Linked DNA regions of Homo sapiens: region 2 is linked to region 1. Evidence: fine-mapped expression QTL. Tissue or cell type: whole blood. Region 1 holds a variant in brackets; the other region holds the start of a gene. All regions are shown on one strand. Distances are from middle to middle.

What was found. PIP is the estimated chance that this variant, and not a neighbour inherited with it, causes the effect.
Region 2: FBXW2 starts here. The variant in region 1 is fine-mapped to the expression of FBXW2 in whole blood (TOPMed, PIP 0.93).

Annotation. Positions count from the first base shown.
Region 1 is chr9:120,687,218-120,695,419 of GRCh38, forward strand. All of the region lies in intron 1 of MEGF9 (multiple EGF like domains 9), which reads right to left. Among named protein-coding and RNA genes, the nearest start is that of MEGF9, 23 kb to the right of the region's middle. RefSeq lists an enhancer at 5,522-6,332. The variant G/C (reference allele first, on the strand shown) is at 4,879.
Region 2 is chr9:120,788,246-120,796,421 of GRCh38, forward strand. FBXW2 (F-box and WD repeat domain containing 2) reads right to left here and starts at 5,171. Exons shown (of 8, transcript NM_012164.4): 1 at 5,109-5,171; 2 at 4,904-5,012; 3 at 1-33. The coding sequence starts at 13. It overlaps B3GALT9 (beta-1,3-galactosyltransferase 9), which reads left to right and starts at 5,222. Exons shown (of 3, transcript NM_001386823.1): 1 at 5,222-5,677. RefSeq lists enhancers at 4,872-5,502, 5,565-5,664, 6,095-6,184.

The DNA.
Region 1 (8,202 bases):
CTAGAACCTAGCAGTGCCTTGCAACTCCAAATATGGTCTATGGATCTGCATTACCTGGGAACTTGTGAGAAATATAGATTCTCAGGCCCACCTGAGAACAACTGAATCAGGACCTGAATCAGAACCTGCAGTATCATAAGGTACTCAGGTGATTCCTATGCACATTAATTGAGACGTATTGCTCTAGAGAAACTCACCTACAAGTGAAGAAAACATGTGCAATGTTGTTCATTGCAGCATTACTTGAAAAAGCAAAAAATGTAGAATCAGCTCAAATGATTATCAATAAGAAAAATGAGATATTGTGGACTATTCATACAGTAGGAAACTATACAGCAAACTTGATAAAGCAGAATTACATGGAACAATATAGAAAAATCTCAATAAAATGGTGAGTTTAAAAAAAGCATGGTAAGAGTTCATTATACAAAATTTGAAACATGAACACAACACTGTGTGTGTGTGTGTGTGTGTGTGTGTGTGTGTGTGTGTAAACATTTTTAAATGCATGGCACCAAATTCAGGATAGTGGTTACATCTGGGTAGGGAAGAAAGAAAAAGAGATAAAAAAAAAAAAAAAGAACACCAGGAGGCTATGATCATATTTAATATTTTATCTCAAAAATGAAAACAATCCAAAGCAAATACAGGAGAAAATTCAGATATTACAAAGCTGGGAGGCAGGTATACAGGGGATGTTCACTATATTACTTTTTATACTTTTCAGAAAACTTATTTCATATTTTTTAAAATGAAGAATAAGTTTCTCCCCATTGGTTAGCATTTCTCATAAACAAATATCATCGTACTCAAACTTGTACTATAGAAATAATCATCTATTTGTCCTATCTAGGTTTTAAAAGAACAAGTTTTGCATCTGACTTATCTCTGAATGCATCATCTCCTCTCCGCAACACACACACACACACACACACACACACACACACACACACGCACGCACACACAACTTCTCTTAGGGCTTCAGAGATCAAGTTAGGAGATTTGAAGGTCAGATTCAAGTGAAGATATGGTTACCTGGGCCAATCAACATGGAAAAACAGAATCTCTGCCTGGGGTAGCCAAGATTATGGACCCAAATAGGACTAACTGTAAAGTCTGCAAAATAAGGAAGGAAAAGAAACAGTAGTGCTAACAGCAGGGCTGTATCAGGTGCACCAAAATCAAGTGAAAAAGAAAAAGACATACATCCAAGGGCATGAATATATTCATTCATTCAGCAAATATATATTGCCTCATATATACCTGCTAAACATTATTTCAGATGCTAGGGATGTGGCAGTAAACAAAACAGGCCAAAATTAACGCCCTCATGGACCTTACATCTTAGAAATGGACACACAATTAGTTACTTAAATAGGTTAAGTATTTAGTATGTTAGAAGGTAGTTAAATCCTAAGGAGGAAAAACAGCAGGAAAGGGAGACAGGGGAGATGGAGGTGGAGAGTAACTACATGTGTGTTGTGGGAGTGCAATTTTAGATAGGATGGACATAGGAAGCGTATGGTAAGTATATGCAGGAGTTTTTCATTTTACATGTTCTTTACACGTGCTTCTGGGCAAGGTAGAGAGGTTTAAAAGGTTCAAAGCAATGTTCTGTTGATAATTGAATTAGTATGAATAGAAGATAGAAAAATATGCAGAGCACAAAACCAGAGAACTGTAATTCTTCTCTGAGGTTTCTAGAGAAAAGATTCCTGGCAAAGCACATTAATCACTGGTTCAATCATCAACAAACTAGTGTTGTGCCAGAAATACAGACTACAATTTCTAGGTGCTGGAGATACAACAATGAGAAAGACAGACGTGGTCATTGTTCTTATACAGCTTAATGTCTTATAGCAGAGAGAAAAACAAAGAAGCAATATCGTGTGATAAGTATTGAAACAGAAATATGAATAGAACATTATGGTACATGTGTTTGCACATGGAGAACCACCTAATTCAGACTTTCTAGAGGAAGAAATATCTAAGCATGGACGTGAAGAATGAGGAGGTATAGCTAAGCTAAGGGTAGAGGAGAGGAGTATCCCCAAGGCAAGGAGCAGCATGTGTAACAACATCAAGGCAAAAGAGAGCATAGTACTATAGAGAACTGGAAAAAGTGCATTGTGGCTGGGACACAGAATGGGGTAAGAAGTGGTGACAGGTGAAGGACTTTCCTAAGAGCAACTGGATAGCCATGGAAGAATTTTATACAAGAGAGGAAGAATAATCAGATCTACATCTTAGAAACATAATTCTGGCTACAGTGTGAAAATGGACCAGGGAAAGAATGAATGCAAAGAGACTTTTTAGCAGCCTGCTAAAAAAAATCCAATTGAGAGATGAAGATAGCCAGAAAAATAAATGCCAAGAGCATGTGCATGTTATTATGACCACAGGATATTTATCATTACCTGTGCACCAGATGGTAGGCTCATATCCTAAAAACCTAGTTTTTCCCCTATTGTAGTAAAAATGAATCATGTGTGCCAATGAATTATCATTGTCTCTTACTCAGAAGGTAGGAAAATTGTATAAAAATCAAAGACCCTAATAAATTGGGCCCATAAAAATGTTGCCAGAGTTGTGCTTTATAACCACCTAAAGTCATTATGCTCTTCTCTAAGACAGCACCTTTACTTGCACATTATGTCAATACCTGATAACAATTTTCATCCTCTCCCTTCCCATAACAATTTTTCTACCCGTTTTAACAGCTTCTGAGACTCTAAGATTCATGACTGGCTGTGTAAGAGGCAAGTACTTGCTTTTCAGCTGAATAAACAAAGACAGACAATGAGGGTAATGTGGCAAATGGGTCTGCCCACTCAGATATTTTCCAAAGAAGGAGTTCACGCTGGGCTCCCTCAGTTGGAAAGCCCAGGGGAATAAACATTCCAGATATATAACTAAACTAATATCAAAGTCATACTTCATCAAGCACTATTACTTCTGCTGCTGAGGGAATGGCATACAAAACTTTGGGGAAATTACGAGGTCCAAGGACATAAAAATTAAAGAATGGGAATAAAGAAGGTAAGTACACTGGGGTATTTTGTTGACAAAACCAAACCTGACATATTAAAACAACTTTACTCACCCAGAGACCAAGAAAGCAATGAACTTTCATCAATGCCCTGGAGTCAGTGTGTGTGTGTGTATATATTAAAGGATATGTGGCTATAGTCAAAGATGGCAACATTCAAAATGAAAACTATTTGTATTTTAGGGTATACTCTAAAAGACTAATGTTTTGTATCAATGATACATCAGATGTAGAATGTTTGGCAATGCTTGGGGCAGCTTCTCTATCCTTTTTATTTATTTCATTCAAAATGAGCAGTACATTCCTAACCAGGTCTGCTCAGACACCCAGGGTGCTACTGAATGGTAGTACAGACTCTTCAGTGACCAAGCAACCAATATCCTGGAATTTGAAAAGAACTTTTTATAATGAAAAGTTCCACTATCAATAGACCATTTGCCTGAGTTGTTTTCATAGTTGCAACTGACCCTCTGCTGGAGACCAAAATTTCCTCTGTATTATCCCTAAAGTCACTCCACTAGCTAAAAATTAGGATAGGACAGAGGAGGAGGGAAGTACTTTAAATTCTAACATAACAAAAGAAGAAATTAGGTAATCAAAATAAAAATGCCCTTGTTATAAAAATAATGTTGGCCACAGACATTTAAAAAGAAATATAAATATTTTATTGAACTCAATAAATATGTATGGAATGAGCATGGTTCCAATGACACATTTTAGCACAAGTTGTTTGCAGTTAATATGACCATTGATAAGCATTTCTTTGAGTCATAGTTTCTTCACATGTAGAAACTGGGTAATAATCTGTATCCTACCCTATCCAAACAATTCCAGGAGTATTTATGTTGCCAGTTTTCATCCTCAGTTGAGTTACTAGGTATTTAACAATGCCAGAAATAACAACAAAAAAAGCCACCATTTTTCATTACTTGTCTCAAAAAATGATCAATCAATCAATCAAGTCTCTAGATTTAGCTCTAGCAACATAAATGGATAGGGGTGTGGATGAGGCAGGACTGGCCATGGAGTGATAGTTGGTTGTGCAGGTGGGTGAGAGATATGAGAAAGGTCATAACCCTACTCTGTTAATTTTGGTATATATTCAAAATTTTCCACAATACAAAAGTTTTTAAGTATCTTTACGTTACTCTCACAGGCATATTTTCCTAGATACTTTTGGGGCATCTTTGCCACAGGCCACTGATGCCCTGAACAAGAAGTCAGATTTCAAATATGCACACTAGGCAAAAGCTCTTCACCAAGATTAACTTCAATAAAGTTGGATAGTTTAAACGCATTTTATCAAAATTTCCTGAATGTTTGGAAAGTAGATGAATTGCTATTCCAATGACAATTTTAAGTAACATCAATTGAATTCTTTCCCTGTGCTTTCACTGTTTTAAGTGCTTTACCAACATCATCTCATAATTCTATGATGTAGGCTGACAGACAGGGAGTAAGTGATGGAGCTGGGATTGGAATCCAGACAATCTGACTTCAGAGCCTGCACTTTTAACCAACAATGACTGGATACTTCAAGGCTGAACATTACCGGTTTGGGTAGCATTAGAAAGAATTAAGAAAAGAGAGGAAGAAAACTACTTCAGGCTCAAAAGTACATATGCATTGCCTTGTCAAGAGAAGCAGTATAATATGGTACGGAATAAATTGAGTTAGGTACTTCGAATACTGAATTGTGGCTATGTACCACTCATTATTACATGATCTTGAGTAAGTTAAATACTTCTTATCTTCGGTTTCCTCATCCATATTTAAGTTTAAGGTAAGGACTGAAAGTGAAAATGTACATTAAGGAATCTAATACATAA[G/C]TATTCTAGAGCACTTGCATTTGTGTATGAATCTGTCTCTCCACTAGATTGTGAATGCCTAAGTCATTCACCATTCTCTCTTCAGTTCCTAGCACACTGCCTGGCATACAGAAGGCACTTGTGTTTGTTTAACCTAACATCAGATCCATCAAGAGGTCCAGCACCAATTGGTAGCTTTGTCAAGTCTCTAATTTTAATTATCTAAGTCTATGTGTTATACCAACAAGTAAAATAGGTTTCAAATGTTTGCTTAATAACAGAAGACAGGAAACTAATTCATAAACCCTCTATTATTATGTTATCTAGCATTTAATCCAAAATTAATGATGGAAAAGATTTAAAGAGACAGTAAGTGCCCTCTAATTATCTTCTCTGATGATCATTTACACTTATAGAAGTATGTTGCAGTTTCTAGACTGATCTTTCCAAACACAAATCTCACCATGTCACTTCCTGGCTTATACTTCTTCATGGCTCTTAGAATCAATTTCTGAGCATGACATGGAAAGCACATCATGATTTGACAACTTTGGACCATCCCAGCCACAAATCTCTTCATTCCCTGTTCCACCTTCATGTACCTTTTCCTCCCCTACTCGAGCCACTCAGGACTTCAGTTCCCTAAATGGGCCATGTATGTGCTCTCTTACTTCTGTACTTTTTCAACAGGCTGCTGCTCCCTTTTCCTAGAGTGTCCTTCCCCTCTTCTACCTGAATAATTCCTATTTGTTCTCAAGACTCCACTGAGAGAAAACATCCCACAGAAAGCCTTTCCTGACATTGTCCTTCATCCCCTAAAAGTCTGGGTAAGGAGTCCTCTCTTTGCTTCTGTAGTACATACCACTATGATAGAACTTACCATTCTGTAGTCTAATTTTCCATATCCTTCGCTATGTTCTCAATGACAGAAACCAGGTCTTATTTGTCTTTCCAGTATCTATCTAGCCCAGCTAGGTGCACAGTGGGTGATTAACAAAGATCTGATGAATGTAAAAGAACCTTATTTTGTATAACAGAAAGCCCAGTGTAAACTTATTGACAAAAGCACACCCTTTTCTTTGTTACTTAAATAAAAGTGAATGTAAAGTCAAACAGAAGCATCTTAGTGAAGCACTGTTAAAGACCAATTTGAGCATGGCAAGAAAAAATAAAGAGGATTTGAAATTTTGTCTGGTTAACCAAAAAAAAAAAAAAAAAAAGAAGAAGAAGAAGAAGAAGAAAAAGGAAAAAGAGGATGATACCATTGCAGATTGGTTAAGCAATAAGGAAACAGAAAGCAACAGCATCCTGCTGCTTGTGGCTTTAGTCCCTGAAGACCATTTAATCACAGATTTTAAGTGTGTGTATTTCTAAATGAGTGCTCTATTACACAAGATCATCAACTAAAAGAAGTATAGCAAAGAGAAATGCTTACATTCTGATAAACTGTTAAAAGGCTTGCTATTAACAAGAAAGACCATATGCTAAGAAAAATAATTCTCTAAAACAGCAAGTTTAAGTAAACATTTTTGTTGGCAATAAATGTCTGGAATCCATTTGGAATTTTTCAGTATTATTCACAAGTTAAAAATAATTGATACATATAAAAGTACATTACTAGGTTGCAAAGCATTTGTAGCAACTCAATACCATTATTTGCTATTGTCTCTATTTCTGACCAACTTGTGTTTCATGTTTTACACTGGCTAAAATGACTGTTAGTTTGGGGATGTAGGCTATTAGCCCTTAAATGTCATCCTGGCTAATGTATAACTTTACTCATCTGACTCATAACAGACATCCAAGTCTTCTCCTCTGGAAACCAATCCACTGTACAAATCAATTAGGCTAAAAAAAAAAAAATAAAGGTAAAAGTAAAATGGACAGAGCAGTATGTGAGGATGTACTTTTTCTTTTGGGTAAAATGCATACTTTCTACTCCAAAGAATCAGGAGAAAAACTGAAGAGAGTAGTAAACAGATATATGATATGGACAGTAAAATAATGACTACAAATCAGAAAAGAGAAGCAAAGGTGGCAGGGGCAAAAGATGCATTACAACTAACAGTGGTTAGAAGGATATAATAGAACACATTAAACTCAACCTACATTTAGCATGTCATTTTGCCATCCTAGAAAGAGCTTAAGAAATAAGATAGATCTGGGTTTGAATCCCAGCTAACTAGCACTTGGCTGTGACCTTTGGGCAAACAACTTAACCTCATCTTAGATTCAGGTTCTTTATTTGTAAAGTTGGGTAACACTGCTTATCAACAGAATTGAGAGGATTAGAGGTAATGAAGAATTTAAAAGGATTGGAAGCAGTGAAGTAAAAAGTCCGAAGGACTAAGTTTTCAATATGCAATAAAAAGTACAGCTAATATTTAGAAGGCCAATTTATGCCAGGAATTCTAAGTGTTTTACATTTATACGAATCATTTCATAATTATGGGCCTCCACTTCTTCATTTCTTCAAAGTGAGATTCTACTGCCCTAGGTTATTCTACTTTTTTAAACATAAGTACAAGACAGTTTGCCCAACAGCCTTTTCTTCCCAGAGTAGATGCAATCTCATGATACAGCTGGTTATACACAAAAGGAGGCCAAAAAGAAAGTTTCATGTTTAGCAGGTATGGTAGGTACTTCAGGCAATTTTTGTGGCTAGTGACTATCATGGTAGGTCTAGGAAAAAATTTCAAATTGCCCTTTTCTGGTTATGTTTCTAGATAGGAAGAAGAGGTAACCAAAGATGAATAAGGCAGTTTCTGTCCTCACTGTTTGTGGTCTAGTTGTATATTATAATATGGTGCTTTGAATTTCCCATTCACATTCAAAGGCCTTTTTGACAGCATCACTCCCAGAGATAATTTACTATTTAGGGGTATTCACTTATTTAACAAATATTTACCACAGACCTACCACATGCTAGGAATTAATCTAGGTGCTGGCCATATAGTGGTTTAAAAAAAAAAAAAAAGAGAGAGAGAGAGAGACAAAGACAAAAACCCCTGCCTCTTATGGACCTTACATTCTAGTGCTGGTGGTGAATAGGGACAATTTATGCACCAATGCTGTTCAATGATTTATTTAGTATTTACTACATGCTGAACACTATCCTATGTACATGTTAGGGAGTGCCAACATCAATAAGACACAGCCTATAGGCTACTTGAGAAAAGGTAAAGAGGAGTCAGTTACATAGACAAGTAATACTTAAAATAAGGGTCCTTAAAAAGCAAGTAATCAAAAGGTCAGGCGCGGTAGCTCACGCCTGTAATCCCAACACTTTGGGAAGCCAAGGCAGGCAAATCACAAGGTCAGGAGTTCAAGAGCAGCCTGGCCAAA
Region 2 (8,176 bases), 100 kb after region 1:
CCTTTCTCTCCATAAGGTTATGGAAAAATTTACCTGTGGCACATCAAAATATTGTATTAGTTCTGCTCAAAAAGACTGTTCAAGCAAGACTGCTAACAAATGAAGTATTAAAAATTAGTGTAAAAAATCTGCCATTACAACTTTATGCGTAGTTACATTACAACTTTACAGTTAATACACCATATTTATCTGAACACTTTCCATGCACACAAAAGAAAACACATTTGAGAAAACATACTTTAACAAATCATGAATCCAAAACATGTCAGTGAAACAGACTGGCGTGTGTGACTTATTCCTCTTGAAGTCTAGCACGTGCTACATGCATCTTCATAGTAATAGATTTACCAACAATTCATTATAAAACAGTATATTTTACAATACACCCTTCCCCCATCAAAACCATTATAAAACAATTTCCTTAATGAATTCCTTAATACATTCTATTTGGGTACTAAAATCACAAAAGCAAGCACCAGGATGTGACAATCAGAAACAGTCTCCTGAGCAGTAACCTGAGACACTGATTGTCATGGCAGGCACAACCTGTCACCAAAATCATAGAACTGACTACTTGGTTTTGCAACAGATGTTCAGATGAAAAGGTTTAGGGAAGAAAAGCAGGTGTGGTAAGTTATCTGCCTCAGGAATTCTGGTTCTTCCAACTTCTTTATGGCACTGCCTGTTTAGAACATGAATTATAAAAGAACTTATGTGGCTTTAGTCTGTTTTTCTAAACCTCATATGAGCTAGTGACAACTCTTAACCACGTGCCCCCGAGAGCCATGAGGGGTCCTGGAGGCCTGCACAAATAAAGCAAATTAATAATCCTGATGTTTATAAAACACCAGAAAATAGACATTATCATCTTCACTTTGCAAATGAGGAAACTACAGGTTAGAGAAGGTATGTGATTTGCCTATATTCACAGGGCTACTAAATAGCCACAGAACAGACTGGACGCCAGTGCTCTCAAGATCAGGTACCAAGCTCTCTCTCTAAAATAAGTGACAACCAGGAGAACCACGACCAAGTGGTAAGATCTGGAGGTAGTGTGTCTACCCGTTAGACCATTTTCTCCTTTAGGAGAATGACAAATTGCTCCTGAGCTAACTGTAACAAATAATTTTTTTTAAAGTATCCTGTATTAGTGTCAACAGGTGTTAATTCACTCTTAATGAGGATTAGACTAATGAAAGATTACAAAAAATATAACCAGTAAAAACTATCTTTCTCAAGACTATGTGTTGATAGATGTTAATGCTGGGTGATGTGTACATAGGGATTTATTATTCTCTTTATTTCCATATATTTAAATATTTCCATGGTTTAATAAAAACTTTCCTTCTGAATACTCAGTTTCTCACAAGACTGTCATATTAATTTTAAAAACATATGTCCAAATTAATGTGAAAAAGGAAAGTTAATTTCTTTCCAGACATATCACCTAGATCAGGTCTACACAAAAAGCAAGATCTCATCTTTCAACTTTGATAATGTAAGGTGAGTAAAATTGTAAGTGTCCAATATCAAATTTGGCAATAACATTCTTAGACAAATAAGCAATCTGATTTATTAGTAGAAGCAACCAAACCTTGCAATCACATCATCTGCTAACAGTTTTGATTTCTGGAACTGTGACTAGACTTCAAGATAATACGTTTCAAGCCAAAGTTTGGGCTAGAGAAGATTTATTAATCTGTATTAAAAATTTACCTAGCTGACAAAAAATAATCAGATGGCTAAAAGTTTTATCGACTTATCACGCAATAACAAGCCCCCTCCTTCCTCTAAATCCTAACAACCCTCTTATCTATACAACATTTCTTCAAAATCTCTACTTCTAAAAAATAATAATTTGCAACAAGACAAAGCAATTATCTTCTGTGGGCATCTGCATATTGTCACAATAGCTAGTTAATTAATACTGGTCAATTAAAAACACACACCAGGCTGGGCACAGTGGCTCACGCCTGTAATCACAGCACTTTGTGAGACTGAGGTGGGCTCGGCCGGATCACGAGGTCAGGAGATCGAGATCATCCTGGCTAACACAGTGAAACCCCATCTCTACTAAAAATACAAAAAATTCCCCTGGCATGGTGGTGGGTGCCTGTAGTCCCAGCTAGTCGGGAGGCTGAGGCAGGAGAATGGCGTGAACCCAGGAGGCGGAGCTTGCAGTGAGCCGAGATCACGCCACTGCACTCCAGCCGGGGCGAGAGAGCAAGACTCCATCTCAAAAAAGAAAAAAAAGAAAAAAAACCACACACCTGCTCCTGAAACATTTTTAACAGTGAAAAGTGTGGTGTGGCAAGCTTCCTCCATCACATCTACACATACATATATACACACATACATACACATGCTGACACACATCTATTGTAGAAATGCTTGTATTTAAGTGAGCTGAACTGTTATTCAAACGGCTACAAGGCAAATTTAGAATACTCATTAAAATATTATCAGGTTCCCATCATTCACAAATATCTAAGAGACATACTATAATATGCCAAATTCACATGTATACCTATGTAACAAACCTGCACGTTGTGCACATGTACCCTAGAACTTAAATTTAAAAAAAAAATGCCAAATTAATGTGCCCATGACACCGCTAAAGATTACGGAAGAAGCTTTTTCAGAGAGCACATCTAAAAAAATTCAGCCATGTCTCAGATTTATATATTCTCCTAACTCTTAATAAAAAAAATTTTCCCAACTCTTAGATTGCCTTTTAAACCACTCAATCCCTTGTAAGATTGAGCAGTTCACCTCTGATTATTCTGAAAAAGGCATTTTTTTCCCTAAAAAAGCAAGTCTCACTAACTGCAGAATGCACTATTTAAAAAACACCAATTTTTACTTTTCTGAACAGATCAACTAACTTTGGAGGGGGCCTTCTAAGGTAACAGGTCTAAACTGGACTCTTTTAGGCAGCCTCTAGAAATATCATACACTGGTTGCACAAACCTCAGGAAATGGGATTTCAATTCAACATGAGGAGCTTTTAAATCTCAGCGCTTTCCAACAATGGAATAGCTACCTCCAGAGTAGTGAGTTTCCCATTACCACGAACAGTCAAGGACAGTTGGACACAGAGGCAGAATGTGATAAATGAAAATACTTTGGAGGTTGGCCAGATGTTTTACTGATTCAGCCACTTCCTATGTGATTATGGGCATGTCCAACTAACTTTTAAGCTTCAGTTTTATCATCTGTAAAATGGAAGCCATCATCCAACTTGAAGGGTGAAACTCAGAAATATAGCAGGGACATGCTTAGCACAGTGTACAGTCTAGCGGGTAAAAACTCAAATGGTACTTTTTGTTAGTTTTACTACTATGAACACCTGGCAGTAAAGATTTCTGTGACACTAAGGGTGGAATGGACATGACCACTAACATCTCTTTTGACCCTATCATCTTATCACTAAGTTTCTCTTCAAAATACCTGGAAGAAAAACTCAAGGGCTCAAACTTACTAGGGGTTTAATTTTATAAAGAAGAGCACCTGTTTATTGGAGGCTCTAGTTTCCCAGTAGGTGCCTTATTCTACCCACATTCCCTGCTGTTTGGCCCCCTTACCCTACGTCCCTACCCCAGAGTTAACATTCAACTTGCCCTCTTGCCTTCAGTATCAATAATCACAAAGTGGGTCATGCAACAAAAAGACTCCTAAATTGGAAAATGAGAGCCTGGGTTTGGTCTCAGGTTCTGCCATTAACTCCCTATGTTACCTAGGCAACTCACATATTTATATTGGTTTTAAAGAAAAAGTACCACTGGTAAACATTATCTCATTTCATCTTCATAACCTCATGGAAGGTATCAGTAATGCCGCCCTTAACTAACATTAATGAGGAAATTTACGGCTCAAGAAGTGGAGTGGCCTTCCCAGAATGGCACAGGAAGTAGCAGGCTCAATATTTTGCCCAGTACCCATTCTCCCAAAACCTATACTCAGAGGTATTAGAGACAGGACCTTCTGGAAAACAGTGTAAATGTGTTTTCCCCTCCTCCTCTATCAGAACCTGGCCTAGTCAAGAGTGAAAGCAACATAATTGTTAGTGGTAGAGGGAAGGAGGCTTCATTTCCCCCTTTTCTTATCAAACAAAGAGCACAGAGGCGCTGAAAATGTATACACACCTATAAACTTACATATGCATAAAATGTATTCTGAATATTCAAGAAACTGATAACCCTGGTTGCCTCCAGAGAGAACTGGAGAGCTGCAGAATAGGAATGAGGGGTCCCTTTTTATTGTATACCTTTTAAAACTGAAAACCATGTTAAGTATAATATACTATCAAAAAATAGCCTTTAGTTTTAAGGTGAATTTTTTTAAAGCTTTGAAAGAATACAAATAATGTTTATAAAATATGTGTTCTGCAACTCCACTTGTTGCTGGGTGACCTTGGGCAAATCACTTCACCTGTCTCATGCCCTGTTTCCTCACTTGTAAAATACAGCCAAGAGCATTACCTACAAGGGTTTTTATGAGGGTTAAACAAGACAGTGCAAGTAAAGCGTTTAGCACAGTACTCGGCACGCTGTAAGCCTACAGTAAATGTCAGTTACCATTATTACTTAGCATTAATATTGTTATCTTTGCTTTACTTCAAGCAGCACCCCACATACACACCTGTTTTCATGGCATACCCACAATTATGGCGCAGTATAGCGCTTTGTACTTCATAAACCACCTCATCACACTTCATCGTCTTTCAAACGTTTGGTAGCCCTGGGACATCACTGTTAACTCATTTCGCAGCTAAGGAAATGGAGGCAGTAGGAGGCAGTAACTCCAAAACCCTGTTTTCCCGTCTCTAAAATCCAGATCCCATCAACCCATTCGTTGCTCCCAGGTCCCTTGCTCTCGGAATCGTGTTCCGCGCGGCACTGACCTGAGCGAGCGCCCCGGGGCCCGGGACCTCGCGCCGGGTTCACAGCTACTAGGCACGCTCGGACCGCCAGAGCCTTGCAGCGGCCGGGTCCGCTCCGCAGCCATGGCGCCTGCAGGGAAAGAAAAACAGCCAAGGCGCGGCGGGTCAGCAGAGCCGCGGGCGCCTAAGAGTCCCCTCCCCGACCGGCCCCGCCTCGCATACAGACCCGGACCTGCGGCCGCTGCTCCCGGTCCGCAGCCTCACAGGGGAGCGGCTTCCGGTGCTGCCTGCGTCATCTCCGCGCGTCCCTCAGCTCCGCGGCTCCCGGCGGAAGCGGCTGCACTTCCGGTCCCCGCCCGGAGGTGGGTGGTGGGAGGCTGGAGGCCGGGAGTAGGGGTGGGGAGAAGAGCGTCCCGGGAAGCTGAACGCGTGCCGCGCGGCCCTCACGGTGCTTAGGCTGGGTGCAACCTAGAACGGAGGTTCCTTTCGTACCGTACATCCAGGTTTGCACAGCGCGCTTATGTCCCTCCTCCAATCTGATCTTGCACCAGCTCTGCAGTAGTTTTTCTTATTATCCTCATTTTACGGAGGAGAGGGAGCTGTGGCTTAGAGAAGTTAAGAGACGTGTCCAAATTCATACAACCTGTTGGGCACCTCTTTATCCCGAACGCTGTTCTAGGGGATAGGGTTAGTGAACAAAAAACGCAAAAGCCCCTGACCGCCTGGGCCTTACATCTATTAGGAGGAGGAAGACAGATAAACTAAGGCTCGTGCAAAGGAGAAAAATAAAGCAAGGTAAGGAGGTTGTTGAATGAAAAGAGACAGTCAAGTGATGTAGATTTGAATGAATCACAACGTTTACACTCTGGCTGTGGCCCGGTTACTTAACCTCTCAGACTTTGCTTCATCTGCATAGCAATTATAGTGAGGTCCCCATCCGAAGGCTCTGAGGATTGAAGGAAATGAAGCATGCAAACCTTTTGGCGTCAAGAACTAAAACTGAGCTAAAAAATCCCACGCACTCTTTCTCAACATTTTTTGTGTACCATCTCACTCAGTTCCCACAACAACCCCACAAGCTAGTAACTATTATTAGGCCCCTTTTTAGAGATGGGGAAACTGAAATCAAAAGAGGTTTAGGCATCTTGCCTAAGGTCATAGTAAATGGCTGTCATAGGATTTCAACCCAAACCGACTTCAGAGCACAAGTTATCCTTTTTTTTTTTTTGAGGCAACGTATCACTCTGTCGCCCAGGCTGGAGTACAGTGACACGATCTTGGCTCACTGCAGCCTCGACTTCTCCAGGCTCAAGCGATCCTCCCACCTCAGCCTCCTGAGTAGAAGGGACCACAGGCGCGTGTCACCATGCCCAGCTAGTTGTGTGTGTGTGTGTGTGTGTGTGTGTGTGTGTGTGTGTGTATTTTTGTAGAGTCAGGGTTTCGCTATGTTACCCAGGCTGGTCTTGAACTCCTAGGCTCAAGTGATCCACCTGCCTGGGCCTCCCAAAAAGTGCTGGGATTACAGGGGTGAACCACAATGCCCAGCGCACAAGTTATCCTTGTTTCTCTGTAAGGGTTCCTAAGCCATACATGCATACACGCACATTCACATACATCTTATACCAACACTGTCCAATAAGCTTTTTGCCAGTGATGGAGTTGTTCTGTTGGTGCTGTCCAATAAGGCAGTCACTAGTCTCTTGTGGCTACTGAACATTTGAAAAGTACCTGATGTAAATGAACTAAATTCTTAATTTTATTTAATTTTAATTTAATAGCCACATGAGGCTAATGGCTACCATGCTTGATAGCACAGTCCAATAATATAGACAATAAGAGAGACACATATCCAGTAGATGGTAGAGCATGGCCAAGGTTCCAAGCATCCTGACTTCATTTAGGGTACTTGAAACATGGGAAATAAAAATTGATTATGTGGGGTGGAAGTCAACTACGGTGTCCTAAAAGTAAGGTCTCAAGAGAGCAAATTTGATTTGCTAAGCAACAGGATGTCACTCTAGACTTCTAAGTCAGAACGTGACTGATCACAGCATTATAAGACATTTAGGAAGACAGATATACAGATTGGATACTCTCTATGAAAGGGAAGGCAGTACCAGGGTAATCAAGAAAATCAAGCACCCATATCTCTTTGGAGCAAACATTCTCAACCCCAGTACAGTTTGATGAATCAAATTGAAAAGTCCAGATGGAGCTGCCCCAGAGATAATATTGTTTGGACCTCTCATAACAAAGAAACCAAATTGTGCAAATTTAAGCCCAGAGGGGATCCAGGAGCAAAATTCATGACTATAAAAAAATTTTTAAATTGCAAAGTGGACGTAATATTTAATTAAATACAAGACCTATTGAATTGTTAAATTCAGAATATGTAAAAATTCCCTTTCATTTGATATTTTTAGGTTAGATTTTTCCCACTTTGTAAAGATTTTCAAGATTGTATGATGGTTGCTGAGAAAACATAGCCAACTTTAAATATAAGAAGTTATTCCTGGCCAAATAATTACAAAAGCTGTTGTAAATGGCAGATAGGAAGATCAACATGTTGGATGTTGAAGGAAAGGACGAAATATAGCCTGGCATGAGAAAAGAATGCTCAGTATAATTGCTTGTGTGACAGGAACATGAAAATATGCTGAATGTTGTTTCTTTTCTCGAAATAAACTTGCTGGTAGAAATGATGTTTGGGATAATTCCTACACATGCATACTCCAGGAAAGGAGAAAACATCAAATGTTTAGTTTCTTCAATTCCGGCTAAAGTGGACTGTATGTTGTCTTCCATTTTGAGCTAAACTTGCCTGGGGAGGTAGTTTAGATGACTTAAAATTGATTTAGTAAAGTGCTTGCATAGCCAATACTAGGGATTCTGAATCCTTCCCAATGAGCCATACACCAGACCTCACCATATGATGTTTCTTTGGGAGAAAATAATGCACCCACTAGGGATGAAAAATCTTCCTCTATGTCTAGTACAGTTTTTGCATGTGTATGTACCAGGGAGCAGGCATTACTCCAGCTGTTTGGTTTCTTGAGATGCACTCCAAAAAAAAGTATAGGATATATCTACTTGTGCAATGATGCTATGGAGAAGTGATCTGGGTAACTGTTCTTTGAACTTCCACACACACTTTACCAGGAACTCAGCATAAAGACATGGGGTCAGTTTCATGAAGTACACAGGGTTGGAAGCATTTGAAGAGGTTTGCTTTGTCTGTTCTTTGTTCTGGATTCACTCTAGCTGTAACATGATCAGCACCCACTCTCCTATGCA